Linked DNA regions of Homo sapiens: region 2 is linked to region 1. The links come from fine-mapping of genetic effects on plasma protein levels. A gene starts in region 1. The other region holds a variant in brackets. All regions are shown on one strand. Distances are between the middles of the regions.

The links. PIP is the posterior inclusion probability: the model's chance that the variant is causal. The UK Biobank Pharma Proteomics Project read protein levels with antibody pairs (Olink). The fine-mapping took linkage between variants from a reference panel, not from the people measured, so its PIPs are less certain.
Region 2: its variant is fine-mapped to the plasma level of the TNFRSF17 protein (UK Biobank, PIP above 0.99).

The regions. Positions count from the first base shown.
Region 1 is chr16:11,957,753-11,974,178 of GRCh38, reverse strand. It overlaps TNFRSF17 (TNF receptor superfamily member 17), which reads right to left and starts at 8,969. Exons shown (of 3, transcript NM_001192.3): 1 at 8,725-8,969; 2 at 7,838-7,984; 3 at 6,111-6,609. The coding sequence starts at 8,854. The coding sequence ends at 6,332. It also overlaps a transcript of NPIPB2 not described here and the pseudogene UBL5P4. RefSeq lists enhancers at 923-1,423, 8,742-9,181, 9,302-9,421 and a silencer at 10,933-11,102.
Region 2 is chr16:12,270,049-12,286,474 of GRCh38, reverse strand. It overlaps SNX29 (sorting nexin 29), which reads right to left. Exons shown (of 21, transcript NM_032167.5): 15 at 8,439-8,542. Among named protein-coding and RNA genes, the nearest start is that of SNX29-AS2, 94 kb to the left of the region's middle. RefSeq lists an enhancer at 2,050-2,179. The variant TCTAAAGCCACCTTCC/C (reference allele first, on the strand shown) is at 7,105.

The DNA.
Region 1 (16,426 bases):
AAAATATGGCATTTTGACCTGCTGGACTGAAGAAGCATCATAGTCTCTCTGGCCTCGCCCATAACACAGCAAATCTCTCAAAGCCAGGATGAAGTTCCTTCATCTGCCTAAACTTGGGACCCACCAAAAATAACAATTTTTCCCCTCCCTGTAAAACTGAGAAGGTAACCACACCTGAACAAATGCTTTCACAAGATAAAGACCCTCTCAGAATCATTCAAATTCCAAAGAGAACTGTTTACAGCATAATCTCCATTCCAGGATCCATTCCATCTCCAGTGATCCTTTATTGCTCCTCAACAGAATTCCTCTTCTCCCCAGTCCCATAACCTGTTTTGCTGGGGTTCCAAGCCCTCATTCTTTTTGTAGCCTTGTGATAATTTGGCTGGGTGCGGTGGCTCACACCTGTAATCCCAGCACTTTGGGAGGCAAGCAGATCACCTGAGGTCAGGAGTTCCAGACCAGCTAGGAACTCCTAGCTAACTTGGGAGGCTGAGGCAGGAGAATCGCTTGAACCCGGGAGGTAGAAGTTGCAGTGAGCCGAGATGGCACCACTGCACTCCAACCTGGGCAACAAGAACAAAACTCTGTCTCAAAAAATAAAATAAATAATTTATAAGCTGCTGAACTCTGTTGAGGGATAGGTATTCACTCTGTGGTTCTCCCCCAGGGTACAAGTCAGTAAAACTTGTCTACCTTTTCTCCAGTTTATCTGCCTTTTCTGAGCTGATTTTTCAGCAACTTTCAAAGGACTAAGAGGAAGTTTTCCCCTTGGCCCCCACAGTGGAAAGAACCAAATCCCAGCTATGGAAATCATGGCTATAAACCAAAAATAAAATTCTCAGTCCCCCAGTCATCTGAATGAAGCCCGCCTCTTGGCCAAGGGCACTCCAAAGGCAACCTGAAAAACTAGTTCAGGCCATGATGGGAAATGGGAGCCAGACATGCCTCACGATAGACTCCTCCCTTTTAGAATTACTGATAGAATAGAGTCTTTTTTTTTTTTTTTTTTTTTTGACAGTTTCACTCTTGTTGCCCAGGCTGGAGTGCAATGGCACAATCTCGGCTCACCGCAACTTCTGCCTCTGCCTCTCAGGTTCAAGCGAGTCTCCTGCCTCAGCCTCCTGAGTAGCTGGGATTACAGGCATGTGCCACCGCGCCCGGCTAATTTTATACTTTTAGTAGAGTTAGGATTTCTCCGTGTTGACCAGGCTGATCTCAAACTCCTGACCTCAGGTGATCCGCCCGCCTCGGCCTCCCAAAGTGCTGGGATTACAGGCATCAGCCTCCACGCCCAGCTATTTTTTTTTTTTTTTGAGTCCGAATCTCGCTCTGTTGCCAGCCTGGAATGCACTGGCGTGATCTCGGCTCACTGCAACCTCCATCTCCTGAGTTCAAGCAATTCTCCTGCCTCAGCCTCCCAAGTAGCTGGGATTACAGGCGCCCACCACCACGTCCAGCTAATTCTAGTAGAGACGGGGTTTCACCATGTTGGCCAGGATGGACTCAATCTCTTGACTTCATGATCTGCCTGCCTCAGCCTCCCAAAGTGCTGGGATTACAGGCGTGAGCCACCACACCTAGCTTTTTTTTCTTTTTTTTTGAAGATGCGGTCTCACTGTGTTACTCATGCTGGAGTGCAGTGGTGTGATCTCAGCTCACTGCAACCTCCGCCTCCCAGGTTCAGGTGATTCTTGTGCCTCACACTCCAAAGTAGCTGGGATTACAGGCACATGCTACCAAGCCCCGGCTAATTATTGTATTTTCTGTAGAGACGGGGTTTCCCCATGTTGTTCAGGCTGGTTTCAAACTCCTGACCTTACGATCTGCCCACCTCGGCCTCCCATAGTGCTGGAATTACGGGCGTGAGCCGCGGCATCCAGCCCAGAACAGACTCCTTAGTAGGAAACATTTACAATCTATTTTCTGAAGCCTGCCACCTGGAGGCTTCATTGGCATGACAGAACTACGGTCTCCACAATCCCTTATCTTAACACAGAAATTTTTTTGTTGGTTTGTTTTTGTTTTTTTGAGACAGAGTCTCGCATTGTCGCCTGGGCTGTGGAGTGCAATAGCGTGATCTCAGCTCACTGCAACCTCTGTCTCCCAGGTTCAAGTGATCCTCCTGCCTCAGCCTCCCGAGTAGCTGGGATTACAGGTGCCTGCCACCACACCCGGCTAATTTTTTGTATTTTTGGTAGAGATGGGGTTTCACTATGTTGGCGATGCTGGTCTCAAACTCCTGACCTCGTGATCCACCCACCTCAGCCTCCCAAAGTGCTGGGATTACAGGCAAGAGCCACTACGCCTGGCTGATTCTAAATCTTTAGACCATAACTTAACTCTTTCAACCAATTGCCAATCAGAAAATCTTTGAATCTAGGCCAGGAGCACGGTAGCTCGCACCTGTAATCCCAGCACTTTGCGAGGCTGAGGAGAGCAGATCACTTGAGGTGAGGAGTTCAAGACCAGCCTGGCCAACATGGCAAAACCCCATCTCTACTAAAAATACAAAAATTAGCTGAGCTTGGTGCCGCACAGTTGTAATCCCAGCTACTTGAGAGGCTGAGGCTGGAGGATTGCTTGAACCTGGGAAGCAGAGGTTGCAGTGAGCCAAGGTTGCGCCACTGCACTCCAGCCTGGGTAACAGAGCAAGACTCTGTCTAAAAAAATAAAAAAGAAAGAAAATCTCTGAATCTACCTATGACTTGGAACCACCCACCCCCCCACCACCCCACTCCCCCATACCTGCTTCTAGTTGGCCTGCCTTTCTGGACCGAACCAGTGTACATTTTATATGTATTGACTGATGCTTTTTGTCTCCCTAAAATGTATAAAACAAAGTTGTAGCCCAACCACCTAGGGTATGTGTTCTCAGAATCTCCTGAGGGCTGTGTCATGGCCATTGGTCACTCATATTTGGTTCAGAATAAATCTCTTCACATGTTTTAGAGTTTGACCCTTTTCTTTAACATGACTGACCTAGCACACAACAATGTAGCAGATGAAAATGCTGATTTTAGGCCAGGCGTGGTGGCTTATGCCTGTAATCCCAGCACTTTGGGAGGCCAAGGTCGGAGGATCGCTTGAGCCCAGGAGTTCAAGACCAGCCTTGGCAACATGGCGAAACTCCATCTCTACTAAAAGAATAAAAAAAATTAGCCGAGAATGGTGGTACATGCCTGTAGTCCCAGCTACACAGGAGCCTGAGGTGGGAGGGTCACCTGAGCCCCAGAGGTCGAGGCTGCAGTGAGCCAAGATTATGCCACTGCACTCAGCCTGGGCATTGGAGTAAGACCCTATCTCAAAAAAAAAAAAGAAACGAGTAAGAAAATGCTGATTTTAGGCCAGGCGCGGTGGCTCATGCCTGTAATGCCAGCACTTTGGGAGGCCAAGGCAGGTAGATCACGAGGTCAGGAGTTCAAGACCACCGTGTCCAACAAGGTGAAACCCCGTCTATATTAAAAATACAAAAATTAGCCAGGCGTGGTGGCAGGTGCCTGTAATCCCAGTTACACGGGAGGCTGAGGCAGGAGAATCGCTTGAAACCAGAAGTTGGAGGTTGCAGTGAGCCAAGATCGTACCACTGCACTCTAACCTGGGCAACAAGAGTGAAACTGTGTCTCAAAAGAAAGAAAAAAAAAATGCTGATTTTAAACACTGGAAGGCCAGGTGCAGTGGCCCACACCTATAATTCTAGCACTTTGGCAGGCCAAAGTGGGTGGATCACCTGAGGTCAGGAGTCCGAGACCAGCCTGACCAATATGGTGAAACCCCATCTGTAGTAAAAATACCAAAACTAGCTGAGCATGGTGGCATGCGACTGTAGTCCCAGCTACTCAGGAGGCTGAGACAGGGGAATTGTTTGAACCCAGGAAGCAGAGGTTGTAGTGAGCTCAGATAGCACAACTGCATTCCAGCCTGGGCGACAGAGTGAGACTTCATCTCAAAAATAAATAAATAAATGAATAAAAATAAAGACTGGAAATGTGGGACAAGACAGGTTTTCACCATGTTGGTCAGGCTGGTCTCTAACTCCTGACCTCAGGTGATCTGCCTGTCTCGGCCTCCCAAAGTGCTGGGATTACAGGCATGAGCCACCACACCCGGCCATACCCAGGAGTTTTTGTGTGCTTAAAATGAGTTAGTATAGGCCGGGTGTGGTGGCGGGCACCTGTAATCCCAGCTACTTGGGAGGCTGAGGTAGGAGACTCTTGAACCTACCTCTTGAGGTAGAGGTTGCAGTGAGCCAAGATGATGCCAGTGCAGTCCAGCCTGGGCAACAGAGCAAGACCCCGTCTCAAAAAAATAAAATGAGCTAGTACAGGTGAAGCACTTAGAACAGTCCCTGGCACGTTAGTAAGACTATATAAGGGTTAGATATGATTATTATAGCACCACTCACATTTTGGGCTGAAAACAGTATGTCGTGCACCGTTATCACAGTTTGCGATTACACATTTACTTGTGTAATTATAGTAATGCCTGATGCTTTCATTAAGCTGGAAGCTCACAAGGCCAAGAACCACCTGTGCACTGCACACTGAATTCGTCTGGTTGATTCTAGGCTTCTCCTGTTTGCAGAAGTACATAAGTTAGCTTTCCTTTAACAATAAAGAGAAAAGGCCAGGCACAGTGGCTCACGCCTGTAATCCCAGCACATTGGGAGGCCAAGACAGGTGGATCACGAGGTCAGGAGTTCAAGACCAGTCTGGCGAAGATGGTGAAACCCTGTCTCTACTAAAAATACAAAAATTAGCCAGGCGCAGTGGCGGGCACCTGTAATCCCAGCTACTCGGGTGGCTGAGGCAGAGAATTGCTTGAACCCGGGAGGCAGAGGTTGCAGTGAGCTGAGATCGCACCACTGCACTCCCGTGTCAACGACAGAGCGAGACTGTCTCAAAAAATAAATAAATAAAATTCAAAAATCAAGAGAAACATCCGATCCTTCCTGAAATCTGTATGTATGTATATCGGAGAGAAGCGCCCTAACCATAGAAGCGTATGACTGGGGCCGGGCGCGATAGCTCACACCGGTAATCCCAACACTTTGGGAGGCCAAGGCAGGTGAATCACCTGAGGTCAGGAGTTCAAGACCAGCCTGACCAACACAGTGAAACCCCATCTCTACTAAAAATACAAAAATCAGCAGGGCATGGTGCCACGTGCCTGTAATCCCAGCTACTCGGGAGGCTGAGGCAAGAGAATCGCTTGAACCTGAGAGGTGGAGGTTGTAGTGAGCTGTGATCATGCCACTGCACTCCAGCCTGGGCAACAGAGCAGGACTCCGTTTCAAAAAAAAAAAAAAGAAAAGAAAAAGAAATTGGTTACTGAGATCTACAGAATGCTGTTTTTTTCAGTAAGTCAAGCGTTTAGAGGTCTCTAGTGAGAAGATTGTCATGTCAGCATGTTCAAGGTGATGAGCATCAGCTAGGATGATTGAGGTTGTTTGCAACAACCTCAGTGGAGAGTGGATAGTGTGGAGAAGGTCTGTGTTAAATGCTACACAGATAACACCATTGTGGACCTTAAGAAGCTGATTACAGCCCAGACTAGGGCTGTAACAAGAACAACCCTTTCAGGAACAAGACTCCTGAATAAGTGGTATACAATTTTTAAGGACCACATATCTTTGGGGCACTATAAAATCCAGCAGAAGATGAAGCTGGAGGTCTTTTTGTTTGTTTGTGTTGTTTTGTTTTGAGACGGAGTCTCACCCTCTTGCCCAGGCTGGAGTGCAGGGATGCTATCTCAGCTCATTGCAACCTCCACCTCCCAGGTTCAAGCGATTCTCCTGCCTCAGCCTCCTGAGTAGCTGGGATTACAGGTGCCTACCACCATGCCCAGCTAATTTTTGTATTTTTAGTAAAGACAGGGTTTCACCATGTTGGCCAGGCTGGTCTCAAATTCCTGACCTCAGGTAATCTGCCCGCCTCGGCCTTTCAAAGTGCTGGGATTACAGGCATGAGCCACCGCGCCTGGCCAAAACTGGAGCTTTATTATCAATAGGTTAGAATTCTTTCCCCCTCCCACCTTTCTCTCCCACCCTCACCCCCCACACTGGTATACATGCTTGTTTTTAAAAACTCACGTTAATAAAAACTTAGATGTCAGGAAAAAAAAGAGTTTAATCATGAAACCAAGGAAGTTTCTACCATTAAGCTCCCAACAGTAACCTAGAGAAATATATCTAACATAAAGAGTTTCCACAGTTAGAGGACAAAAAGCTGTATCGGCAACTGAAAAATACAGTCATCCTAAAGAGATCTGACACATCATCTATTCTGACAAAAGATTTTTAAAGTGGCACTGCTCGAGTCGAAATGGTTAATTACCTAGCAGAAATTGATTTCTCTATCTCCGTAGCACTCAAAGCAGCTGGCAGGCTCTTGCAATAGTCATTCGTTTTCGTGGTGACAAGAATGGTTGCGCCTTCCTCCATAGCTGGGAGTGGAAAGCAATGGTCAGAGTCGACCTTCGGTTTGCTCTTGATGCAGTCTTCACAGGTGCATTCTTCCACCGTGTACTCGAGGCCTCTCGGAAGAATAATTTCATCACCAGTCCTGCTCTTTTCCAGGTCAATGTTAGCCATGCCCAGGAGACCTGATCCTAATTATGTAGAAACGGAAACATTAACCCAAACTTCACAGAGAATGTGGTCATGAGAGTCTTAGCAGTACACATCGGGACTCAAAGCAATGTGAGAGAGATTTTTTCATTTTTTAGAGGTGGGGTCTTACTGTGTTGCCCAGGCTGCATTCAAACTCCTGGGCTCAAGCAATCCTCCCACGTTAGCCTACAGAGCAGTCGGGACTACAGCTCCATGCCACCACACCCAGCTTGAAACAGATCTTTTCAGTAAAAAAGAATGAGTATGTGCTGGGCCCTGTGGCTCACGCCTGTAATCCCAGCACTTTGGGAAGCTGAGGCGGGCAGATCACTTGTGGTCAGGAGCTTGAGACCATCCTGGCCAACATGATGAAACCCTGTCTCTACCAAAAAGTACAAAAATTAGTCGGAGGTGATGGCACATACCTATAGTCCCAGTTACTCAGGAGGCTGAGATGGGAGAATTGTTTGAACCCAAGAGGCAGAGGCTGCAGTGAGTTGAGATCACGCCACTGCACTCCAGCCTGGGCCACAGAGCGAGACTCCATCTCTAAATAAATAAATAAATAAATAAATAAATAAATAAATAAATGCATACAGAAATAGGGCAGTGGCTGTACATGCTTGGGAATCCAATCATGAGCAAAGGTGCTGCAGAAGTATTTTTATCTTAAGAGGCACTTAAGTAGAACATTCATTTTTCTGGGACTGGTTCTCTATTGCTTAAAAATAATTATTTTTTAGATGATTCCTCAAATAATTCAGGAGCAACTGGTTATTCATTTCTAACATTTTTCAGTAGTAAAATGTTCACTCAAGCAAAGAACACCTATATTTGTATAAAAACATGACCATAGATCTTGACAAATATGCTTTTCCTGACAGTAGCAGACCTGGCTAGGAGTTTCTGATAATGTGGCATTTAATCGATGTGCTAACTTTAGTCAAAGAGACTGATGTTTCCCAAGAAAGCCTTAGTACTTTCAATAGAGTAATTAACAGTGGAAGAATCCTGGAGAAGACTGACATTGTAGAAAATCTGCCAAGGTGTCAAAATCAGAATGAAGATGGCTCACCTCTACCAAGTTCATTTAATGTAACAATGTTCTAACACATTCGAAAGGGCTGTAACGAAGTGAAATAGTCAACGCTAAAAAAAGAAAAGGAACTGAAACTCACAATAGCCATCCCCTGGAAATAGATTTCAAAGATTCACCATCAAACCAACCTGTGTTTTTAAACTCGTCCTTTAATGGTTCAGAGTTTATCTTCCTTAGCAAAAACATTAGCACGAAAACTGCCAAAGAAATTATTAAGCTCAGTCCCAAACAGGTCCAGAGAATCGCATTCGTTCCTTTCACTGAATTGGTCACACCTTTATGAAAAGAACATCAGACAGATAATGAGCTGATAACATAATATTCACATACTTTATTGTTATTATTTATTTATTTATTTTGAGACAAAGTCTTGCTCTGTTGCCCAGGCTAGAGTGCAGTGGCGCGATCTCGGCTCACTGCAACCTCCACCTCCCAAGTTCAAACAATTCTCCTGCCTCAGCCTCCCGAGTAGCTGGGATTACAGACCTGTGCCACCATGCCCAGCTAATTTTTTGTATTTTTAGTAGAGACAGGGTTTCACCAGGTTGGCCAGGCTGGCCTCAAACTGCCGACCTCAGGTGATTCACCCACCTCGGCCTCCCAAAGTGCTGGGATTACAGGTGTGAGCCATCCACCGCACCCGGCTGTCATACTTGATTATTTTGCTAAAATAATGAATTATGGATTGTTTTGATAGCAAAATAATCAAGTATGGATTATTTCCATTCAATCACCTTAATTAATGAACATTGACTTTTAAATTCTAAATATCACTTAATTAGAAGAGCTGATTTTTAAAAAAAATCTATGTTGCTAATAGTGCTGAATCATATCAAGTTCAGTTCCAAATAATTACTTTGTTTCCATAAACATTAAAATCACTGCCTTGCTTCCTTTCTCTTTTTGATTCAAGAAAACTCACCATCATGCCCATTATGTTGATTCTCTGAATAAGCAGTCCATATAGACAGAATAGTTCACACCAATGAATAATCGTTCAAGCAATATTACTTACTTGCATTACAATAACGCTGACATGTTAGAGGAGGAGTATTAGAAGAACATCGAAGTTGACAAGGTATGCAAGCATGCAACAAACTGTCAAAATATTCATTTTGGGAGCACTGCCCAGCCATCTGCAACATGATCACAAAAAGAAAACAAGGGAGCTACAGAAAGAACAGCCTGGAAGGACAAGTAATATCTCTACAAGAATTCCAGAGCAAATGCAGCAAGAGCAGCTAGAATGTTGAGAACAATGAACTTCGCCTGCTTCGTGGGTTCTTACGGGGGCTGTCTGTGTCTTCGCGGCAGCTAAGGATTTGAATACCACATCTAATTCAAGTTTCTAAGTTTGAGTCTTGGATGGGGTAAGAGACAGGGTGTAAATATCAGGGCATATCACATCTGAAACAGAAACTGCTTATTTATAGAAGAAATTTCTCAGCCAGGTGACAGTTGCAAGATGCAGACAAGCCCACAGCATCAAGCCGAATGTTCAGTAACAGTTTCTGGAACATCTGTTAATAAGCTGTACTCTGTGAGAGGTGCCAGGGAGATAGACAAGACAAGGTCTGTGCTGTGCCCCTTAAGATCTTAACATTGAGGCCAGCTGCAGGGGTTCACACCTGTAATCCCAGGACTTTGGGAGTCAAAAGGCAAAAGGATTGCTTGAGCCCAGGAGTTCAAAATCAGCCTGGGCAACATGGCGAAACCCTGACTTTACAAAAACATTTTAAAAAGTAGTCTGGTGTAAGCTGGGCGCCGTGGCGCTCTCCTGTAATCCCAGCACTTTGGGAGGCCGAGGCAGGTGGATCACTTGAGGTCAGGAGTTCCAGAACAGCCTGGCCAACATGGTGAAACCCCGTCTCTACTAAAAATACAAAAATTAGTCAGGCATGGTGGCAGGCACCTATGATCCCAGCTACTCAGGAGGCTGAGGCAGGGAGACGTGCTTGAACCCAGGAGGCGGAGTTTGCAGTAAGCCAAGATCAGGCCACTGCGCTCCAGCCTGGGTGACAAAGCAAGACTCTATCTCAAAAAAAAAAAAAATTCTACAGGAAGATCAGAGGTGATGCACTAAGGAAGACGCACAATGCCACTGACAGAAAAAGAGACATTTAGGGTAAGAGCTCGTGGAAAGAGGGCTGAGAGGAAGATAGGTTTGGGGTATTATAATAATAATACAATAATCTATGTTCCATTGTTGAAAATTTAGAAATACAGATGAGCAGATAAAACCATTTTAAAAATCCACAGTCCAAGCATCCAGAAGTCATCACCGCTAACACCTGGTGTATCCCAGAAGTTGCAAACAGACCTGCCGATGCGATGTCTTTTGTTTCACCGATCCCTGAATTCTAGATAGATACATTTATATAGTGCATTTTTCTGTTTACATAAATGGATCACTTGAATTTGCCTTTTTTTTTTTTTTTGACAGAGTCTCACTCTGTCTCCCAGGCTGAGTGCAGTGACACAATCACAGCTCACTGCAGCCTCCACCTCCTGGGTTCAGGTGATCTGCCCACCTCAGCCTTCCAAGTAGCTGGGACTACAGACATGCGCCAGCACGCCTGGTAAGTTTTGTATTTTTTGTAGAGATGGGTTTTTGCCGTGTTGCCCAGGTTGCTCTCAAACACTTGGGGTCAAGTGATCCACCCACCTCGGCCTCCCAAAGCGCTGGGATTACAGGTGTGAGCCACTAAGCCCAGCTTGAATTTGCTTTTAACCATACTGAGTGAAATACCCATATAGAGACGTCCAGATGTTTGTCAAAAATGCAGGACTCAATTAAAATTTGAGGAAATGGCAAACTCCTAATTCAGTATAGTGATTATCTCTGAGGTAAGTGGTGGGGAAGAAGGGGAGCACAAAAAAGGCTTCACCTGTGTTTATTATATTTTCTTTATTAAGCTGAGTGGTGGATACATTGATATTTGTTGTTTTCCTTTTGTTGTATTTTTCTTATTCTTTACACTTTCTTAAGGCCCAAGGAGTGTGCCAAGGAAACCTGCCATCCCTTCTACTTTATTTCATCCTCCAAGCACCCCAACCTTTAAAAACTTATTCTTTTTTTTTTTTTTTTTGAGCTGGAGTTTCACTGTTATTGCCCAGGCTGGAGTGCAATGGCGCGATCTCGGCTCACTGCAACCTCCACCTCCCAGGTTCAAGCGATTCTCTGGCCTCAGCCTCCTGAGTAGCTGGGATGACAGGTGCATGCCACCACGCCTGGCTAGTTTTTGTATTTTTGGTAGAGACGGGGTTTCACCGTGTTGGTCAGGCTGGTTTCGAACTCCTGACCTCAGGTGACCCACCGGCCTTGGCCTCTCAAACTGCTGGGATTACAGGCATGAGCCACCTAGCCTGGATGATTTTTTATTTATTTGTTTGTTTGTTTGTTTGTTTGTTTTGAGATGGAGTCTCCCTCTGTTGCCAGGCTGGGGTACAGTAGTGCGATCTGCAACCTCTGCCTCCCGGGTTCAAGTGATTCTCCTGCCTCAGCTTCCGGAATAGCTGGGATTACAGGCATGCGCCATCATGCCCAGCAAATATTTGTATTTTTAGTACAGACAGGATTTCACCATATTGGGCAGAATGGTCTCAGTCTCCTGACCTCGTGATCCACCTGCCTTGGCCTCCCAAAGTGCTGAGATTACAGGTGTGAGCCACCGCGCCCAGCCACTGATAATTCTTGTTTTTAAAATTCATATTATTAAAAAATAAGTATTCAAACAGTGCCAAAGATTTTTCAATGAAAAGTAAGTCTTTTTCCTACCCTGGATTTCCTCTCTCTTGCCAGAGGCAGTAATTACTGTCAGTCTTCCTCTTTTTTTTTGGTTTTTTTTTTTTTTTTTTGAGACAGAATCTTGCTCTGTCACCCAGGCTGGAGTGCAGGGGCGCTATCTCAGCTCACTGCAAGCTCCGACTCCCAGGTTCATGCCATTCTCCTGCCTCAGCCTCCAGAGTAGCTGGGACTACAGGCACCCACCACCATGTCTGGCTAATTTTGTTTTTGTATTTTTAGTAGAGATGGGGTTTCACCATCTTAGCCAGGATGGTCTCGATCTCCTGACCTCATGATCCGGGATTACAGGCATGCGCCACCATGCCCAGCTAATATTTGTATTTTTAGTAGAGACAGGGTTTCACCATGTTGGGCAGAATGGTCTCAATCCCCTCACCTCGTGATCGACCCGCCTCGGCCTCCCAAAGTGCTGGGATTACAGGTGCAAGCCACCGCACCCAGCCTTTTTTTTTTTTTTTTTTTTTAAGACAGGGTGTTGCTCTATTGCCCAGGCTGGAGTGCAGTGGCACCATCAGGGCTCACTGCAGCCTCCACCTTCTGGGCTTAAGCGATCCTCCCACCTCAGCCTCCTGAGTAGCTAGGACTACGCACATGCCACCATGCCCAGCTAATTTTTGTATTTTTTGTAGAGATGAGATTTCATCATGTTGCCCAGGCTGGTCTTGAACTCCTGGGCTCAAGTGATCTTCCTGCCTCAGCCTCCCAAAGTACTGAGATTACATGTGTAAGCCACAGTGCCCAGCCACTGTCAGTCTTCTGTCTTTCCAAATAGAGCCTCTGTTTATGTCTGTCTATTCAGACCCTACCTATTTTATTTGTATCCACCCAGGAGGCAGATAGAGCATATTATACAACTGCTCATACCTTTTTTTTTTTTTTTTTTAAACAGGGTCTCACTCTGTCACCCAGGCTGGAGTGTGGTGGCAAAATTTCAGCTCACTGCAACCTCCGTCTCCCAGGTTCAAGCCATTCTCTTGCCTCAGCCTCCCTAGTAGCTGGGATTACAGGTGCGTGCCTCCAGGCCTGGCTAATTTTTGTATTTTTAGTAGAGACGGGGTTTCAGTATGTTGGCCAGGCTGGTCTCGAACTCCTGACCTCAAGTGATTCGCCCGCCTCGGCCTCCCAAAGTGCTAGGATTATAGGCGTGAGCCACTGCGCCTGGCCTCTTTTTGTATTTTTAAAGTAGTCCATAATAAATGCTAAAATCATGAAAATAAAATGCAGAAATTTAAAAAAATACTTTTTTTTTTAAATGCAGGACTTGAGCCTAGGAAAGATTTTGAACTTAGATATTGATCAAAACGTCAAATTCCTCTGGGGTCCAGGTGGTGAGGTAAGTGGGAGAGGCTGCCTAGGCAGGACAGGGAGAAGCTGAAGCAGCTGGCCCAGGAGGCTCCACTCCCTCAGCCTCTGCCAGATTGCTGACCTTTGGAAGACAGGCAAAGGAGACAGGACAAACATGATTAGAGAAATAGGGAGAGAACAAAAATTATCTCCCAGGCTGGGTGCAGTGGCTCACACCTGTAATCCCAGCACTTTGGGAGGCTGAAGCAGGTGGATCACCTGAAGTCAGGAGTTTGAGGCCAATCTGGCCAACATGGTGAAACCCAGTCTCTACTAAAAATACAAAAATTAGCCAAGCGTGGTGGCGTGCATAATCCCAGCTACTTGGGAGGCTGAGGCAGGAGGATCGTTTGAACCTGGGAGGCAGAGGTTGCAGTGAGCCAAGATTGCGCCACTGCACTGCAGTCTGGGCTACGGAGTGAGACCGTGTCTCAAAAAAAAAAAAGAAAAGAAAGAAAAAAAAATCTCCCATAACAGTCAAGCAAGGAGAGATTTTAGCCTGAGTTAGGGAGTGGAGTCAAATTCTACAGGAAGATCAGGGGCGATGCACTAAAGAAGCAGGTCATTGATGGCCTTTGAGTGTGTCCCTGATGCAAGCCAGATGGTAGATATTTAAGGAGTGGTGAGGAAGAGGAGGCAGCCAATAGGAGCCATGCCTGAGGCCAGGCGCCATGGCTCATGCCTGTAATCCCAGCACTTTGGGAGGCTGAGGAGGGCGGATAACCTGAGGTCAGGAGTTTGAGACCAGCCTGGCCAACATGGTGAAACCCCGTCTCCACCAAAAATACAAAAAATTAGCCGGGCATGGTGGCGCACACCTGTAATCCTAGCTACGTGGGAGCCTGAGGCAGGGCAATTGCTTGAACCTGGGAGGCAGAGGTTGCAGTGAGCTGAGATCATGCCACTGCACACTCCAGCGTGGGCGACAGAGGGAGACTCTGTCTCAAAAAAAAAAAAAAAAAAAGGGAACCATACCTGGGAAGCCAGAAGCCAGGGGAAGAAAGCTTTGCTAACTCTTTGGAAAGAAAACACTATTGTGTCTGACAGATATACTTGCTCAGGTACTTAAAATCTCAGGTACAATGTAGTTTACTGTGACATCACATCTATTCATAAGAGCCTAGAGCAACAGAACTGTTCGTCACTGGGAGCCTCACAATGGAAGACTATGGCCATCAGAAAGAATGAGACAGATGTGGTCTCATATGAAAGATAAATCACTAAGTGAAAAACACAAAGTACAGACTGGGCACGGTGGCTCACACCTGTAATGCCAGCATTTTGGTAGGCTGAGGTAGAAGGATCACTTGAGCCCAGTAGTTCGAGACAGCCTGGGCAACACAGGGAAACCCTATCTCTACAAATAATTTAAAAATTAGCCAGGTGTGGTAGTGCGTGCTTGTGGTCCCAGCTGCTCAGGAGGCTGAGGCAGGAGGATCACCTGAACCTAGGAGGTTGAGGCTACAGTGAACCATGGTTGTGTGCTACTGCACTTCAGCCTGGGCAACAGAGCAAGACTGTCTCAAATAAAATAAAATTTAAAAAAATAAAATAGGTAGTGTCTGAATAGACAGACATAAACGGAGACTTTTTTTGCAAAGCTAGAAAGAAGACTGATGGACTGTCTCTGGCAATAGACAAAATCTAAAGAAAGAAAAAGACTCACTTTTCATTGAAAAATCTTTAGCAGTGTTTGAATATTTTTTTTTAATAATATGATTTTTTTTTTTGAGACGGGGTCTCCCTCTGTCACCCGGTTAGAGGTAGTTGGGTGATCACAGCTCACTGCAGCCTGGAATTCCTAGGCTCAAACAATCCTCCCGCCTCAGCCTCTCAGGTAGCTAGGACTACGATAGTACGCCACCATGCATAGCAATTTTTTTTCCTTTTTAATTTTTTGTAAGGGCAGGGTCTTGCTCTGCTGCCCAGACAAGTCTTGAATTCCTGGCCTCAAGCTATTCTCCCACTTCAGCCTCCCAAAGTGCTGGGATTACAGGTGTGAGCCACTGTGCCTGGCTAGGAGCATGATTTTGAAACAAAGATTTTTTTTTAAGTTTTATGAGACAGGTGCTGATGTAATCACATCACCAAAAGAGTGCTGTGTTTGCCCTTGCGTGACATAGAAGGAACAGTGAGGAATCCAGTACTCACACCAGCCTCAAGCTTCACTTGTCACTCACAGCTCTAAGGAAGCAAAGTGGTGCTGGAAACTCCCAAAGCCATTAAAGCTGCTTCTGCCACGGCCCGAGCCCCAGCACCAAATGCTTGGCTGCCCATTCACAGAGGCAAGAGCCATACAGGGGCAAACTAAACCCCTCTACGAGCTCCCCCTGCAGAGCCCCACTTTGGCAAACAGACATTCCTGACTTCTAGATCCACTGGTTGGTGACTCCTCTGGTCCCACTCCCAGATCTTCACCTCCCGAGATCCTGCAATAATTGTGCAAAGTCTCATTCCTTCCCTTATCCCGTAACACTCACCCATGGTAGCTCAGCTCCCCAAACCAACCCTGATTGTTACCACCTCTTTAACCTTAATATTTTCAACCTACAGGCTTTCTTATTTTACTTTGTTTTTGAGACAGGGTCTCACTCTGTTACCCAGGCAGGAGTGCAGTGGTGAGATCAAAGCTCACTGCAGCCTCAACCTCCCCGGCCCAAGTGATCATCCCACTTCAGTCCCCTGAGTAGCCGGGACTGCAGGCACATGCCATCTTGCCTGGCTAGGTTTTTTATTTAACTTTATTTTTTGCAAAGATGGGGGTCTTGCTGTGTTGCCCAGGCTGGTCTCAAACTCCTAGACTCAAGCCATCCACCCCACTTGGCCTCCCAAAGTGCTAGGATTATAGGCATGAGCCACCATGCCTGGCCTAGGATTTTTTTTTTTTTTTTTAACGGAGTCTCGCTCTGTCATCCAGGCTGGACTGTAGTGGCGTGATCTGGGCTCACTGCAACCTCCGCCTCCTGGGTTCAAGCACGTCTCCTGCCTCAGCCTTCCTGAGTAGCTGGGATTACAGGCACCCACCCACCACGCCCAGCTTAATTTTGTATTTTTAGTAGAGGTGAGGTTTTGCTATGTTGGCCAGGCTAGTCTTGAACTCCTGACCTCAGGTGATCTGCCCGCCACAGTCTCCCAAAGTGTTGGAATTACAGGAGTGAGCCACCGCACCCAGCCAGCATTTTCACTGTGTACTGGGCCCCACAAGTTAAGTAGTCAGTCCTGAGTGACTCAATAAAGACAATGTTAGAAAGTTCTCATCATAGGATTTGGATTTGTGTCAGGTTATTTGGGGAGAGTTTGCAAAAACACGGCTTAGCTGATGTTGGCAGGATGTGTGGGGGATTCTGTAATTGGGGAATATCTAAGTATCAGTAGAATTCTCCAGAGAAATAGAACCAAAAGGAGATACAGAGCTAGAGACAGAGATTTACTTTAAGGAATTGCTTCATGCAATTGTAGGAGCTGGCAAGTCCAAACTCCGCAGGGCAGGCCAGCAGACTGAAAATCCACGTAAGAGTGGATGTTGCAGTACTGAGTTTGAAATCCACAGGGCAAGCCAGGCAGG
Region 2 (16,426 bases), 310 kb before region 1:
ACTTGGGAGGCTGAGGCAGAAGAATGGCATGAACCCGGGAGGCAGAGCTTGCAGTGAACCGAGATCACACCACTGCACTCCAGCCTGGGCAATACAGCAAAGCTCCATCTCAAAAAAAAAAAAAAAAAAATCCTTGGAGGTTTAGCCCTGTTAGTCATTCACACTTCAGTGGGAATTACACCTATCCTGCTAGAAACTATAACTTCTTACCCTTTTTCACTGATATATAGGAGACACTTAAACACTCCATTTTGCTTGGTAATCAAACTATATGAGGTAAGAGCCTGGTCTCAATCCACTCAGCTTCATGTGATTAAAAAAAAAAACAAACAGGACAGGCATAGTGGCTCACACCTGTAATCCCAGCACTTTGGGAGGCCGAGGTGGGAGGATCACTTGAGGTCAGGAGTTTGAGACTAGCCTGGCCAATACGGTGAAACCCTGTCTCTACTAAAAATACAAAAATTAGCTGAGCATGGTAGCGTATGCTACTGTGGAGGGGGAAGCAGGAGAATCACTTGAACCCAGGAGGCGGAGGTTGTAGTGAGCTGAGATCGTACCACTGCACTCCAGCCTGGGCAACAGAGTGAAACTCCATCAGAAAAATAAAAAATAAATAAATAAATAAACCTAACATCATACCTTTCATTTTGAGTATCAGTTTAATGTAGATCTCAGCTCAGAGTTTTTTATCCTGAGTCCTTATAAAAAATCCAGTATTTTATTGAAAAGCCCATGCTGCTCTTATACAAAAATGACTCCTGGACACGCATGAGAAGTGTTGGAACCCATTGGTGCCAATTTATGAGGCAGGCACTGGTGGTGTAACTGCTCCCAAGGTCCTGGCTGCTTCCGGAATTTTTACACTTTATTAAAATGATGATCACATTCACAGTTATCTACAGCGTGTGATTATGAGTGTATTTTTTACCAGCTTGATGTTCAAGCTTACTTTTCCATTAATAGCGACTCTGCCATTATAATGAGAACAAATGTTGCTAATACACCATTTATTTTACCCACAAGAAAAATTCAGGGACTAACCACACTCAGACAGTAAACGATAAGTGTCTTATAATTTTAAAAATCAATCATCAGCTAGCTGAGCCCTGCCATATGGAAGGGAGTAAAGTTCTGTTTGCAGAGGATGGACTGGCAATATTGAAGCAGAAGATACACAAGTGGGGCAAACAGCTAGAAAACGGTGCCGGCAAGCAAGAGCTGGGAGAGCCCGAAGACAACATGAGGGAGCTAAGCCCTGCTAAACAGTGAGTGGAAGGAGAACTGAAGGGAAACGGCATCTACTGATTACATACGGATACAAAGCTTTACCTAAGTGAGAGCACCGCTGGTAAGCAAAATAAACAGATTCTAACCTAAGCTAAAATAGAATTCACTATAAACAGGCAGAAAAGTGGGGAAATCAGGCTCAGAAAAGTAACTGAGGCCAGGCACAGTGGCTCATGCCTATAATCCGTCCCATCACTTTGGGAGGCCAAGGTGGGTGGATCACCTGAGGTCAGGAGTTCGAGACCAGCCTGGCCAACACGGCGAAACCCCATCTCTGTTAAAAATATAAAAAATTAGCTGGGTGTGGTGGCACGCATCTGTAATCTCAGCTACTCGGGAGGCTGAGGCAGGAGAATTGCTTGAACCTGGGAGGCAGAGGTTGCAGTGAGCTGAGATTGTGCCATTGCCCTCCAGCCTGGGTGACAGAATGAGACTCTGTCTCAAAAAAAAGAAAAAAAAAAAAGGAACCGAAACCAAAGCAGTTCTGGCAAGTTCAACACAGAAAACAATTAGAGTCTTATCAGACTCATTGCTATTAGTCTATTGAATAAATGCTTACTGTTAATTGCTATTGAATAAACGGCCTCCCAAGCATTGCTGCATTCTTATACAACTCCAGAGTTAAAGCCCCCATGGGCCTAGCTCAGGTCATGTACCCAGCCCTGAACCAAAACCAGGGCAAAGCATTTGGACATACTGTCCCACCCAGACAGCACGCTATGGTGGAGAGGGAAGCCCTCCAAAGAAAGTCAGGATGGAGGGGAGAAGAGGAAGCACAGAGACACCTCCTGTCTACTGCAGGCACTCAGCTGGGTTCTTATGTGTCATTCCCAAAACAAACCCACTCACAGGTATGACTGGCTGCATTTCACTAACAGAGAACTTGAGGCTTAGAGAGGTTAGGGGGCGTGCCCAGGAACATACGGCAGTAAGTGGCAAATCTGAACTCAGTCTGACACGCGATACATGTGCTTTCCAAGTCACCAGGCTGCAGAAGGCAGCGACAAAGTGATGCAGGCCCAAAGTCCGAATGTCGCCAACACTTCACATTGTTGTGAAGACAACTGCTGAAAAAGAATAGAACATCTCTGAAGATGAGTCCAAACCAAAGGAAATGTACTTAAAAGAGGTAAAGAAGCAAGAGTCTCAGAAGAGATCAATCTTGGATGTGTCCAATATCTTATCTTCAAAACCTTGGTTGTTTCTGTTCTGGTGTCTTAGAATTTCAAGAAGCATGGGGAAGTTTACAGAAGAAATTCTGAGCATCACCACTAACAGTCCCTAAGAAGTGGGGAGGAATTATCTAAAGAAGCTGTGGTTAGGTGCCAACCTCTGCAGAACTGCCGTCAAAGACACAGCTCCAGGCCTGTGGGTATAACCCTACCTCTGCACTTCAATTATCTGTCCTGACAATTAGAACAGGCACGTCTGCCTCACCCACAAGAATGCAAGCTCCCTAAACACAGGCACTGCGTCCCATTCATTTTTGTAACTTAGGACCACTCTTGGCATGAGGAAGAGCTAATGCAACTCACAGATGAAACACCAATGACTTTGCAACAGAAGTCGCTCTGCAAGTGGCTCATGCCTGTAATCCCAGCACTTTGGGAGGCTGAGGTGGGTGGATCACGAAGTCAAGAGATCAAGACCATCCTGACCAACATGGTGAAATCCCCATCTCTACTAAAAATACAAAAATTAGCTGGGCATGGTGATGCGTGCCTGTAGTCCCAGCTACTCAGGAGCCTGAGACAGAAGAAGCGCTTGAACCCAGGAGGTGGAGCTTGCAGTGAGCCAAGATCACGCCACTACACTCCAGCCTGGTGACAGAGTGAGGCTCTGTCTCAAAAAAGAAAAAGAAAAAAAAAAAAAACAACTCCATCTAGGGTAGTCAATGCCATTTCAGGGATGTCTCTGTTTCAACCTCACAACTTCCTTGGCTCATCTCCTACAACCATCAACACTGCTGCTCCCAGGGTAAGAAAAGCCACAAAGGGAGGAGAAAGGAAGCTAAGGGCTGGACACTGAGAAGGCGCTCAATGGATGTGCACAAATTGAGTTGGCACCATCTATTACTCAATGGTGTCCCCAGGCTCTCCAAGCTATGCCTCCTGCTAACATTAAGGGCCAGAGTAAAGTGTGCCTCCTCTCCAGAACCCATGTGCTCTTATTAGCTATCTAATCCTTTCTACCAGGTTGCTCTGAGCTCTAGTTAAGACTTAACTGTGGGCCGAGTGCAGTGGCTCACGCCTGTAATCCCAGCACTTTGAGAGGCCAAGGCAGGCGGATCACCTAAGGTTAGGTGTTCGAGACCAGCCTGGCCAACACGATGAAACCCTGTCTCTACTAAAAATACAAAAAATTAGCCAGGCATTGTGGTGGGCACCTGTAATTCCAGCTACTCAGGAGGCTGAGGCAGAAGAATCGCTTGAACCTGGGAGGGGGAGGTTGCAGTGAGCTGAGATCAGGCAATTGCACTCCAGCCCGGGCAAAAAGAGCAAAACTCCATCTCAAAAAACAAAACAAAAAAATACTTAATTGTGATGCCTTAGACAATTCACTCCCAATCTGAGGTTCTAGGACTCACATTTATCATTCTTTACGCATTACACAAGATGACTGAAGCCACTCAACAGGCTGGCCTTCTATTCAATGTTATGTTTCTCCTACTATATGCTGGAGATGGGTTGGGCAATGAAGATACAATTTAAAAGACAATGTCCGCACTGCCCTCGAGGAACTCTCACTCTGCTGTTCTGCTACAAGTTGCTTTGGAAGCAGGTAATCCTTGGCACAGACAAGATGTGCTTTTCCCCTTTCTTCTCCAGTAACAAAGGGTTTGTGATGTCCCCACCACCAGCGCCATCTCAAATGGCTGATATTGCTGCAGTTGCTGTTATCTACTACTAGTTTTCCCCCTTGTGTCCTGCCATTCATTCTCTTGAACATCGGTAGTGATCGTCTCTTCCGTCAAGTTAACCTTCTTCTTCAATGAGCTCAGCCTTCCAAAGCACGGCAGAGAGTTGTGGGTTTGCACTCTGGTGCTCAACTGTGAGGATTCAAATCCAGCTCTGCATTTTTTTTTTTTTTTTTTTTTTTTTGAGATGGAGTCTCACTCTGTCGCCCAGGTTGGAGTGCAGAGCCATGATCCCAGCTCACTGCAACTTCCTCTTCTCGGGTTCAAGTGATTCTCTGCCTCAGCCTCCCAAGTAGCTGGGGACTATAGACATATGCCACCATGACCGGCTAATTTTTGAGAATGGAAACAGATTCTATCTGGCAGACATAGTTTCCCCGTGTTGGCCAGGCTACTCTCGAACTCCTAGTCTGAAGTGATCCACCCGCCTCGTTCTCTCAAAGTGCTGGGATTACAGGTTTGAGCCACCACGCCCAGCCCCAGCTCTGCTTCTTAGCAGCTAAGGACTCTTGGGAAAGTTACTAAACTTCCCAAAGCTTTGTCTGTGAACTGGAGGCAGCAAGAGTGTCCTCCTCAAAGAACTCTTCTCAGGATCACATATGTTCATCTACGTAAAAACCCCAGCACAGTGCCTGGATCTAACAGTACTCACCTGACAGCTGCTGCTAGTATTACAGGGGCTGTGATACTACTAGTGCTTTTACCCTTGCCAGATTAATGTATACCTGCCAGAATTCTCCTGTCCTCCTTGTTTTCCTGAGTTAACAACCACAGGGTGTCAGGAACAATTTTTATACCTCCAGTCCTTGGCACAAGATGCCCACCAGCCATTTAAAGAGGGCTTTATGGCACCGACTTTAGGTTCTGTGCTGTCCAGGACACTGGATTCCAGGTCACCAAGCACAAATGTGTAGTGTGTATGTGCAGATAGATGAGTTGGCTTTCATGCTCTCAAAGACACCTAGATAAAAAAATTCTCAGAAACTCCCTTCGCACTGGGATGAATCACCATGTTTAAGGTGTTCCAAATATCCTTATTATCTAAAATGAGATGGACTGGGCACAATGGCATACACTTGTGATCCCAGCACTTTGAGAGGCCGAGGTGAGAGTATTGTTGGAGGTCACAAGTTTGAGACCAACTTGGGCAGCATAGCAAGATCCCATCTCTAGAAAAAGTAAATTTAAAAAAATTAGCTGGGAATAGTGGCACATGCCTGTAGTCTCAGCTACTTGGGAGGCTGAGGTAGGAAGATCCGTTGAGCCGGGGAGGTTGAGGCTGCAGTGAGCCAAGGCTGTACCACTGCACTCCAGCCTAGGCGACAGACTGAGACCCTGTCTCCATAAATAACTAAATAAATACAATGTTTCTTCTTCTTCCTTTGCCCTTCTGACACGGAAAGAAACTATATCAACTTTTCCCCTCACATTCGTTCATTACTCTAACAAGTCTTTACAACTATTTTGGTAAAAATCAACCCATTAACAGAATGACAGAAGCATCACAAAGAACGTTCTGAGGGTCTCGATTAACAGCAAAAGTATTGGTGTAGTGAAATGCTAATGCTATTCACAGATGAAAGATCACCGGCAGAACCTGTCTTTGCAACCAAAAAAGAAGGAAAAATCAATCCGGTGCAGTAAATGCCGTTTGAGGACATGTCTGCTTCAACCTCACACTTCTCTCAGCTCGTTGACCACAGCCAGCATCTCTACTGCTCCCGGGATAAAAAAAACAAACAAGAAGGAAAAGAAAGGAAGCTTGAGGCCAGTAAGACGAACCTTCATGCCTCAACCTTGAGCCCTCCCGTTTGGTGGTTCCACACTCACCCTCTCACAGCTGGCCAGAACGGCCAGGCAGGTGGACCCTGCAGTAACTCCCCACATGACCTGATCCTCTCCACACATCTCAGCTCAGGTCAGCACAGCAGGGGATGAGATTTTCACATGGTCAAAGCAAAGCGGGTGGTGACACGGCCAGGACACAGCCACAGCATCACCTTTCTCCCCTCATCTACTCTGTTCCCGACCCGTGAGTCTCCTTTCAGTTCCTGCCAATGCTTTCCTTGTACTCAGCCTCTGTTCTTGCTGTTTCTGATGCAGAAAGCAGGCATCTCATAAACACTGAAATAAATCATCCAACCACCCGGCCCACGAATGAACTAGTGGCACTTGGCTCAGAGGGTCAAACACCCAATCAATCAGAGGGTCAAACACCCCCACCCCACCCCTACACGCTGCCCAGCAGCCCCACAGGTGGAGAATCTCCACGGAGAGCGCTGCCTGGACCCAGCACTCAATGCCTTTGTGGACCCTGCGAAGTAGGCACCCTCACTGAGCTGCACTGGTCTGATGGAGTCCTCACCACAGCACCCTTGTTCCCCCAGAGGAACAGAACCTTTCATCCTGCACTTTCATTCTGAGAACCCTTTCACCTTCTCTAGCTCATCAGGCCTTCATTCATTCATTCAGTAAATCCAGACATCCCCATCCCAGGAGAACTTAAAAATTCAAGGGTTACGCAGCACCTACCATTTGCCAATAAGTGGCTGTGGAACGTACAGAGGTGGCAAAGACACAGTCCTACCTTTCAGGGGTTCGAATCCTGACACAAGTCGTCCCAATCCTGAGATTGGGGCCCTGCTTCCCTCTCCACTTGGGACTTCCGGGCACAGACTCATGGCCCAGAACCCTGGCACTGCCACCAGCCAAGTCTGAGTCTCACAGCCCCACTGAGGGAGCTCCCAAGGAAGGGCAGAGCACTGGGCAGAGAGCACACAGGAGTGCCCTGTCCCCAGGCCTCCCCAGCCTGGCTTTTGACTCATCCCCACCAACCTGTGTGTTAAGGCCTCAGCTTGCCTTCCCTTGAGCTCACCTGAGTTAGAATGCAAGCTGTT[TCTAAAGCCACCTTCC/C]TTCTTTAGAGGCAATTTAGAGACCAGACAAAACAGATGGTAAGAATGGCAGCCTGCACCAGCAATGAACTTAGGGGAACACCCTCCAAGGCCCTGGGCCTCTGAAACCCACCCAAGCTCAGGTATGTCTACACAGCAATGAGCGAGTGTCTTCTTGATTATCAAAATAAAACTCACTGTAGAAGATTTAGAAAGAACCGAAAGTTTGCTTGTATACTTAGCATGTGTATGTATGTACATACAGACATGACTTACAATACTACCACCAAGGGACCATTACAACATGTACACACACCTCATCAAAAACATAGCTTCTCAACTTTACCATTGAATATGGTAATAAATCAATGGTTTTTGAAAAACCTCTTTATCATATCCAAGAATTACCCTTTTTTTAATCAGGTATCAATAAGGTTATAAAATGATTTTTCATTTCCTACCAAGATAATTATCTGGTTGTCCTCTTTGAGGCTACTAATGAGATGACTTACATGGATGAATTTCCCAACATGCAGCCATCCTTGCAATCCTAAATAAACCCTATGTTTTATGTGCACTGTTCTTTTAATATGCGACTGAATTTGAGTAATGACTTTCTAGAATTTTTGTACATCTTATACACAAATGATTCTATTTGATAGTTTTCTTTTTTATGCTATCTTTGTCAGGATTTTTTTATATCACAGTAATGCATACCTGAACCAAGATAGAGACGTATAAAAACCCTCTCAGGAAATATAAATAGCAAAGGGCTCTTTGTGTATTACCTTGAAGAGTTTCCTAGAAATCACCATGAAACCCTCTAGGCTTGCTGTCTTCTAAGGAAGCAGTTCTTCAGTAATTTGTACAACTTTATTCCAAAATGTTTTGGTTTTTTTTTTCTTTTCTTTTGAGGGTGAGGGGGTCCCTTCGACCAGTTTGCCTCATCTTCAATTAATTCTGATAATGAATGTTTTTCTGAAAAATAGTTCACCTCATCCATATTTTCACATTTAACAGCACAAAGGTGCATGTGATATTCTCTGTTTTCATCTCCAAATCTTACAATTGTTTTATTTTTAATGTTACACATATATGTTTTCTCTTATGTCCTTATCATAAGTGCCAAAAAGTTCCAATATTTAAGTGACATTTTTCAAAGGATCAGCTCATACTTCTTTTTATAAAGCACACTGATTTGGTCTTGCTTTGTTTTGTGGGGCTGAGGAGTTGCTTGGTCGTTTTGCTCACGTGTCTTTAGAATAGGCTGGACCTACCCTGGAAAGTCTCCAACGCAGCCAACATCAGAAACAAAGACACACAGACTCCACCGGCCTTACCTCGATGAGCTTTCTTTCGTAGGAGCTTGCGAGTTCTTCAGCAATTTCTCCCGGCTTCTGTTCAGCTACTGTAACTTCTCCATCAACACTCCAAAGATTTGGCACTTTAGAGAAAGAGAGACATGTCATAAATATTTCAACAGTATCGAAAATTATTCTCCCAGTAAAAAAAGAAAAAATTCTTCTTTCTCAGATGACTTCAGACTGAAAAAGCTCTCAAGAAAAACACACACACACACTTACTAACTACTTCAACAATGGGACATTTTCACCTAAGTACAATAAAACGAGTGACAAGGCCAGGAATGGTGGTGTGCGCCTGTAGTGTCAGCTGCTCAGGAGGCTGAGTTGAGAGGATCGCTTGAGCCCAGGAGGTCGAGGCTGCCATGAGCTATGATTGTGCCACTGTCATCCAGCCTAGGTGACATAACTAGACTTTGTCACTTAAAAAAATAAAAAGCGATAAGCTGTATTTTTAAAATGCAAGAACTGTCATGAGACAGAAGCACAGGAGTCAAGAAATAATCTTGTCACTACTTTCCATTTCAGGAGAAAACAGGCAATGTTTTGGCAGGTTTGGCAAGACATAAGAGCTGGTTGTTTTGGGGGGTGGAGGTTTTGTTTGTTTTTTTGAGATGGGGTCTCCTCTGTCACCCAGGCTGGAGTATAGTGGCACAATCAATCATTTAGCTCACTACAGCCTCGAACTCCTGGGCTCAAACGATCCTCCTGCCTCAGCCTCCTGAGTCACTGGGACTGTAGGCATAACCCTGCTGCAGCAGGCTAGTTCTTTTTTTGTTTTTTTAGTTTTTGTAGAGACAAGGTCTCACCATGTTGACCAGGCTAGTCTCAAACTCCTGGCCTCAAGTGATCCTCCCTCCTCAGCTTCCCAAAGTGCTGAGACTACAGGTGTGAACCACTGCATTCAGTCCACTTACATCTTTTATATTTGCCAAGTTCCTTTTTCTACAACAAAAAAGTGATCCAGTGAGGTAGGGCCTGCTGACAGCCAGCTGTGGAGCACTAATGGGGGTCAGAGTATGTGTAAAACCAAGGATTGGTATTTATAAACCATACTTAGGATGACAGCAAGAAAACCTTTAGAAAAACTCGGAAACCAACACAGAACGTCAATGCAAAAGACATGTTAAAGAGACTGGCTCCCAGGTCAGAGCAAGCATGCACACAAACGGCTCTGAGTAGTGTTTCCATGATTATGTATATGCCCATATATGCCCACTCTGCAGGGAAAAACAAATAAAGAAAAGCTGAGAATGAACCAGATAGTTCCAAGAAAAGCAGAAAACAAGAACAGGGAAGACCTCCCACACCAAGGGCAAAGAAAAACATCCACAGCATGTTTAAGAATGTGGATTAGCCTCAAGCCTCAAAACAAGCATCAATGATGCAGGATCAGTTTCCTGTGTGTTCTGGGACAAGAAATCCCTTGGATGCCCTATCAGCTGTATGGAGGGGCAGTGAGGCTAAACAAGGATCTGAGACTAGCCCCCCAGTGATGCGGGTAGCCTTCAGGAAGAAGGTGAAAGTCAGGAAGGCTGAGCAAAACCAGGAGTCAAAACTGATGCAACTAAGCCAGGTGGCTAAGCCTCCTCAGACCACACTGTTAGAGCCCGCCGAAGGCTCAAGACCCTGAGTGACAGCAGGAAACACGCAGAAAGAAGCCCTGAGTCCTGGGCCACGAATGCAGGGAGTGACCCAATCACAACAGATAACCCCAAACAGTTATGGAAAGAAAAACTGTGAAGAACTCTGTAAAGATGAGAGCCTGAACACAGTAATTTACACTCACATCCTCTCAAAATCCCATTAAAATGTCAATTAAGGCCAGGTGCGGTGGCTCACACCTGTAATGCCAGCACTTTTGGGAGGCCAAGGCGGGTGGATCACTTGAGGTCAGGAGTCCGAAACCAGCCTGGCCAACATGGAGAAACCCTGTCTCTACTAAAAATACAAAAATCAGCTGGACATGGTGGCATGCTCCTGCAATCCCAGCTACTCGGAGGGCTGAAGCAGAAGAGTCACTTAAACCAGGGAGACGGAGATTGCAGCGAGCCGAGATGGTGCCACTGCACTCCAGCCTGGGCAACAGAGCAAGACTCTGACCACGCCCCCCAAAAAAAAAAAAAAAAAAAAACAATTAAAATGTTTCCTATGAGGTGATGATGAATATGGTAAGTACCCAGATTTGATCATTAAATTTTGTATACATCTATCATAATATCACACACTACCTCATACATATGCACAATTTATTATGTGTCAAAAATAACAATAAAAGCAAAAAAAGGTTTTTATAAAGACATCGCTCACAAAAAAAAAAAAAGAATTGGAGAGGAAACAAAAAAAACAAAATTACAGAAGCTAAGAATCAGGTAGATGACTGATAAATAACTTGACAGACCTGAGAAAATTTCATTCCTAAACAGACATGGATGCCACCAAAATAATATCTGATGAGAATGGAATGATTCATAAAACGCTAATGAACTGTTAGCACAAGACACCTCTGGAAATGACGGTGAACACAGGACTAGAAAGCAAAAGAAAGGTTTTAAAAGTCTGTTTAAGAAGCGATTAGCAAAATATACATGTTTATTCTCTGGAGAAAACGCAGTAGGTCTGGACTGAGTTGAGGTTAGGGTATTCCATTTTTTTAATGGAGACATAAAAGTAACACACACTGAACTTCTGAGTTTCTCCCATTCTTCTTCCCTCTCCCCAGCCCCACTCATTCCCAGAAGAGCAGGCAGACAGCATGTGCCTCTAAGCCAGGGAATGGAAAGGTATTCTCCCAGGAATCTAAAAAAACTTTGGAGACCAGGGGTAGTTCTCCAGTGGAATGGCACAGCCAGATCACCCCAAGAGGCCCAAAGTCAAAGTTCACGGAGCTTTGGATCAATTTCTAACCCCATTCCAACACCTGAGTAGACATCTAGAAATCACATCCCATTTGAGAAAAGCACCTAAGATGAAAGACTGAGACAGGAATAAACAGAGAAAAGCAACTTGCAGGAAAGAGAGACTATTTAGGGAAAACACTTCAAAAGCAAACTGTGGGTAATATTTCCAGAGAGAGAGGAGGAGACAGTGTAGTCATGAAATAAGAATACGGAGATATTTAAAAAGGAGAAAAAGAAAAACACAAAGCACACAAAAGCCCTTTTACAGAGTGAAACTATAACAGCAGAAATAGAACAGGGACTGTAAAGGAAAGGGTAGCAAAATTTCCAGAAAATAGAGGCAACGAATAACAAAATAGAATACAAGCCTGGGCAACATGGTGAAGCCCCACCTCTGCAAAAACCACAAAAATTAGTATGGTGTGGTGCCACATGCCTGTAGTCCCAGGTACTCGGGAGGCTGAGGTGGAAGGATCGCTTGAGCCTCGGAGGCAGAGGTTGCAGTGAACTGAGATGGCATAGCTGCACTCCGTCCTGGGCCACAGAGCAAGACTCTGTCTCAAAAAAAAAAAAAAGAGGTGGGGAGAATAGAGAACTACAAGTCCAAATGGAGAAGAGATCAAGAAAGGAGAAAAAGATAACACACAGAAGAGGAAATCAAAGATATAATTCAGAGCCAACAGACACGAGGGGCAGGATGGAAGAGTTCAATGAATGTCCAGCAAAATGGACAAAAGCAAGCCTCACTCACAGACTTGAGAACACAGGGGACAGAGAAGACAGGCTACCAACTTCTGAAGTGGAAGAAGAATTTTTACAAAGGATAAAAACTAGAAATGGCATAGGGTTTCTAAACAGCAACATGGAAAGCTAGAAAACAATGAAGAAACCTCTTCAACATTCTGAAGAAAAATTATTTTGAGCCTTATACACCCAGGCAAGCCACGTGAGAGGCAGGATAAAGGCATTTTCAGACATGTGACCGTGCAGAAACTTTACCCCGCACATAAAGAAGGGAAGAATTCTAGCAATCGTAATACATAGATCCCAAGATATAGGGGATGCAACACAAAAGGGAGCCAGAGAATACTTCATAGTAACAAAAAAGCATAAACAACCCAAATGGCCATCACCTGGTAAGTGAACAAGATGCGGTCTAGCCATGCAGGGTTGTACTATTCAGCCATGAGAGGAATGAAGAGCAGACTCACGCTGCAACACAGATAGACCGTGAGAGCATTCAGCCAGGGGAAAGAAGCCAGATCCGAAAGGCTGCAGATTACCTGAGCCCACGTACACGAAATGTCCAGAGAAGGTCTTAGTTGCCAGGGTCTGGGGGAAGGAGGGATGAAGACCCTACTGCTAAAGGGTATCAGGCTTCTTTGGGGCATGACAAAAATGTTCTGGAATTAGAGAGTGGCGATGGTTGCACAATTTGTGAATATAAAAACCACTGAGGGTCGGGCTTGGTGGCTCACGCCTGTAATCCCAGCACATTGGGAGGTTGAGGTGGGCAGATCACCTGAGGTCAAGTGTTCGAGACCAGCTGGCCAACATGGTGAAACCCTGTCTCTACTAAAAATACAAAAATTAGCCGGGCATGGTGGTGTGCGCCTGTAACCCCAACTACTCGGGAGGCTGAGGCATGACAATCACTTGAATCCGGGAGGCAGAGGTTGCAGTGAGCCGAGATCCCACCATTGCACTACAGCCTGAGCAACAAGAGGAAAACTCCATCTCAAAAACAAACAAACAACAACAAAAAAAAAAAAACAAAAAACAAAAAACCACCACTAAAATTATGCACTCTCAAAGGCTGAACAGTATGTTATGTGCATTATATCTCAAGAAAGCTGTTAAGAAAAAAAGTGAGTTGGAGAGTGTGGGCCCACCAGCAGCAGGCTTCTGGCTAGAGTAGGCCAGAAGGCACCAGGAGAGACTGCCTTGGGTGCAAGCGGGAGGCGGCCTACAGTGCCTGAAGGCACCAGGGGGATTAACACACTGAGGATGAACTTGGAGTTGAATTAAGTATTAACACCAGAGAAATCAAGAGATCGTGCAGGAAAAACGATCATGCACTTCACAGCTGTAGATAGCATTTCCAGTTATAATAATGTAATCACTGAATACTGATCTAACCAAAATGATGATATGACTGTGCCAGAGGATGGGGAGCTGCGTGTTGCGTGTGTTTTCTGGAGGTGGAGCAGTCAAAGACAGTTACCCTTCCTCTTCCACGATGAGAAATAAGTAATTCCAAAAACTGAAAAATAAAAAAGCGGCAACAGGCGTGTTGATCAGAGATATGGAGGCAACAACCCAAAGCATGAGTGGAAAAGCTTCCAAGAGGGGCTTCTGAAGGGTGGCAAGTGGGAGACAGTGACAGCCAGAGGCCTCCTGTCTTTTGTAATAAAGCTAAGAGAACCAATGACTTTATCTATGTACCTGCAAAGTTTTGATTTAAAGACACAAACAAAATTATGTGTAAACTATGATTATATGTTAGTGATATGTAAACTATGTAATCAGAATTTGAGGGGAGCCTGCACTTAGCCATGGGACTTAGAAAAGTCAGGTAAGAGAGCAGTGGAGCCCGTCGGCAGGGCAACCAGGACACAGATACCTTGGCAGGCACCGCAGCATGAAGCTGGCTGCAGCTGCTCAGCAGAGCCTGGTGCTAATACATACGCAAAATGGCGAACTCACAGCCCTGCTCTACCCGTGACTCCAAATGATCTCTTCATCTTGCCCAGGCCCAGGCTGCTGCCCTCTGCAAGGAGGTCCTGCTCATCACAATTCATTCAACCCGCTTCAAGTCCACACATCTCATTAGCAATCACGCCACTGGCCTCCTGTCCCCAAGGCACTAGCCCCGTCCCCAAGGCACCAGCCCCTCTAGGACTATATTTAAGAAGAATCAGCAACCTTCAACACTGGTGGGGGCAGAGGTGCAGAAATAAGCTTTTTGACCTTAAAGGCTTGGGGAAAGACCCTGGACAGTCATGAATTTACATAAGTTCTCTCAGCAACTAGCCAGTCAACCTTCCCCTGCAACTACCTGACTTCCTTGCTGCCCTGGTTCAGTTTTAGCAAGCATGCCAAAAATTTCAATTCCATGTATGAAATAATACAAAATTAAGCCTAACTATATCATACTTTTCCCATCAGTAAGCAGCTTCGAAGATGGACCCCAGGCAGGGCACAGTGGTTCACACCTGAAATCCCAGCACTTCGGGAGGCTAAGGCAGGCGGATCACTTGAGGTTAGGAGTTCAACACCAGCCTGCCCAACAGGTGAAACCCTGGTCTCCACTAAAAATACAAAAATTAGTCGGGCATGGTGGCACATGCCTGTAATCCCAGCTACTCAGGAGGCTTAGGCAGGAGAATCACTTGAACCCAGGAGGCGGAGGTTGCAGTGAGCTGAGATCACGCCACTGCACTCCAGCCTGAGCAACAGAGTGGGACTCTGTCTCAAAAAAAAAAAAAAGATGGTTCCAATATATTACATTCAACAAAGATGGTTCCAATTCCCCCTGCCCCTTGGTATTCACATTCTTATATAATCCCTACCCCTTGAGCATAGGCTGGACTTACCTCCAATAAACAGACTATGTTTATTGACTCACCTCCAATAAACAGACTATGGCAGAAGTGATGGGGTTTCACCACTGAGATTAAGTTATAAAGACTGCAGCTTCTGTGTGAGGTTGCCTTTCTTGTTCATTTATTCTTACGAGCTTCCTACGGAGAGAACCTCATGGCAAGGAACTGATGCACGCAGCCAACAGCCCCCATGAGCCACATGAGGGCAGTGCACACTCCTCCAGTGGAGCCTTGGGACAACCGCAGCCTCCAACTGACACCATGACAGAGCCTTAGGGGAGACCCTGAGCCAGGCATGTGGCTAAGCCACACCCAGGCTGTCTATCCCACACAAAGATTGTAAATGTTTGTTGTTTTAAGCCATCTAACTGTGAGGTAATTTGTTACACAACAATAGTTAACCAACGTAGAGTCTTTAATCATTCCATAGTTACTTCTTGAGAGACCACTTTATTTATTGATTGATTTTTTTGAGAGTCTCGTTCTGTTACCCAGGCTGGAGTGCAGTGGCGCGATCTTGACTCACTGCAACCTCCACCTCCCCAGTTCAAGCCATTCTCCTGCCTCAGCCTCTTGAGTAGCTGGGATTACAGGCACACACCACCACGCCCAGCTAATTTTTTGTATTTTTAGTAGAGATGGCATTTCACCACATTGACCAGGTGGGTCTCGAATGCCTGACCGCAGGCGATCTACCCGCCTTGCCCTCCCAAAGTGCTGGGATTACTGACATGAGCCACTGTGCCCAGCCGAGAGACCACTTTAAATTAGACTGAGTTAGACCATGAAGTGACGGAGATGGTGATATCATTTCATGTAGATGACATGCACAAAAAAATAAAAATATAAATATAAATAAGAGGTAAATGTGCCATGTTGCTCCACAGCATAAGGATTAATATTTACAAAGTGAGGGAATCGACTGAACAGGTTAGACATCTCCCATCTCTCAACTGCCAAAGGTGAGTATGTGGGGTCAAGGCATGAGAGACCATTCATCCCATGAGGCTAAGTTCATGCAAGCACAACATCGGATTTACTTTCAAGTCGAGAAGGTTCAATTTGCCTTGGGAGTAAAAGAACATCTGGGTATTAAGGAAGGCAGCACAATTAAAGTCTGAGTAACGTCAAGTCATTTGAGAGGCAAAAATAACAGATGACAACACCATTCTACACTCTTTGCACATCCCCCCAATAAACCAATCAATTCGTAAAGAATCAATTGTGACTGAATTCTGAAAGTCAAACCTAAACAATAAATACAAACATTTGCAACTGATCAAACTACAACTTTTCTAAGTCGCATCTTTCCTGAGGGTGATTTATGGGTTTTAAAACTGAAAGAACGGGGCTGGACGTGGTGGCTCACATCTGTAATCTCTAGGACTTTGGGAGGCCAAGGTGGGTGGATCACTTGAGGTCAGGAATTTGAGACCAGCCTGGCCAACATGGTGAAACCCCA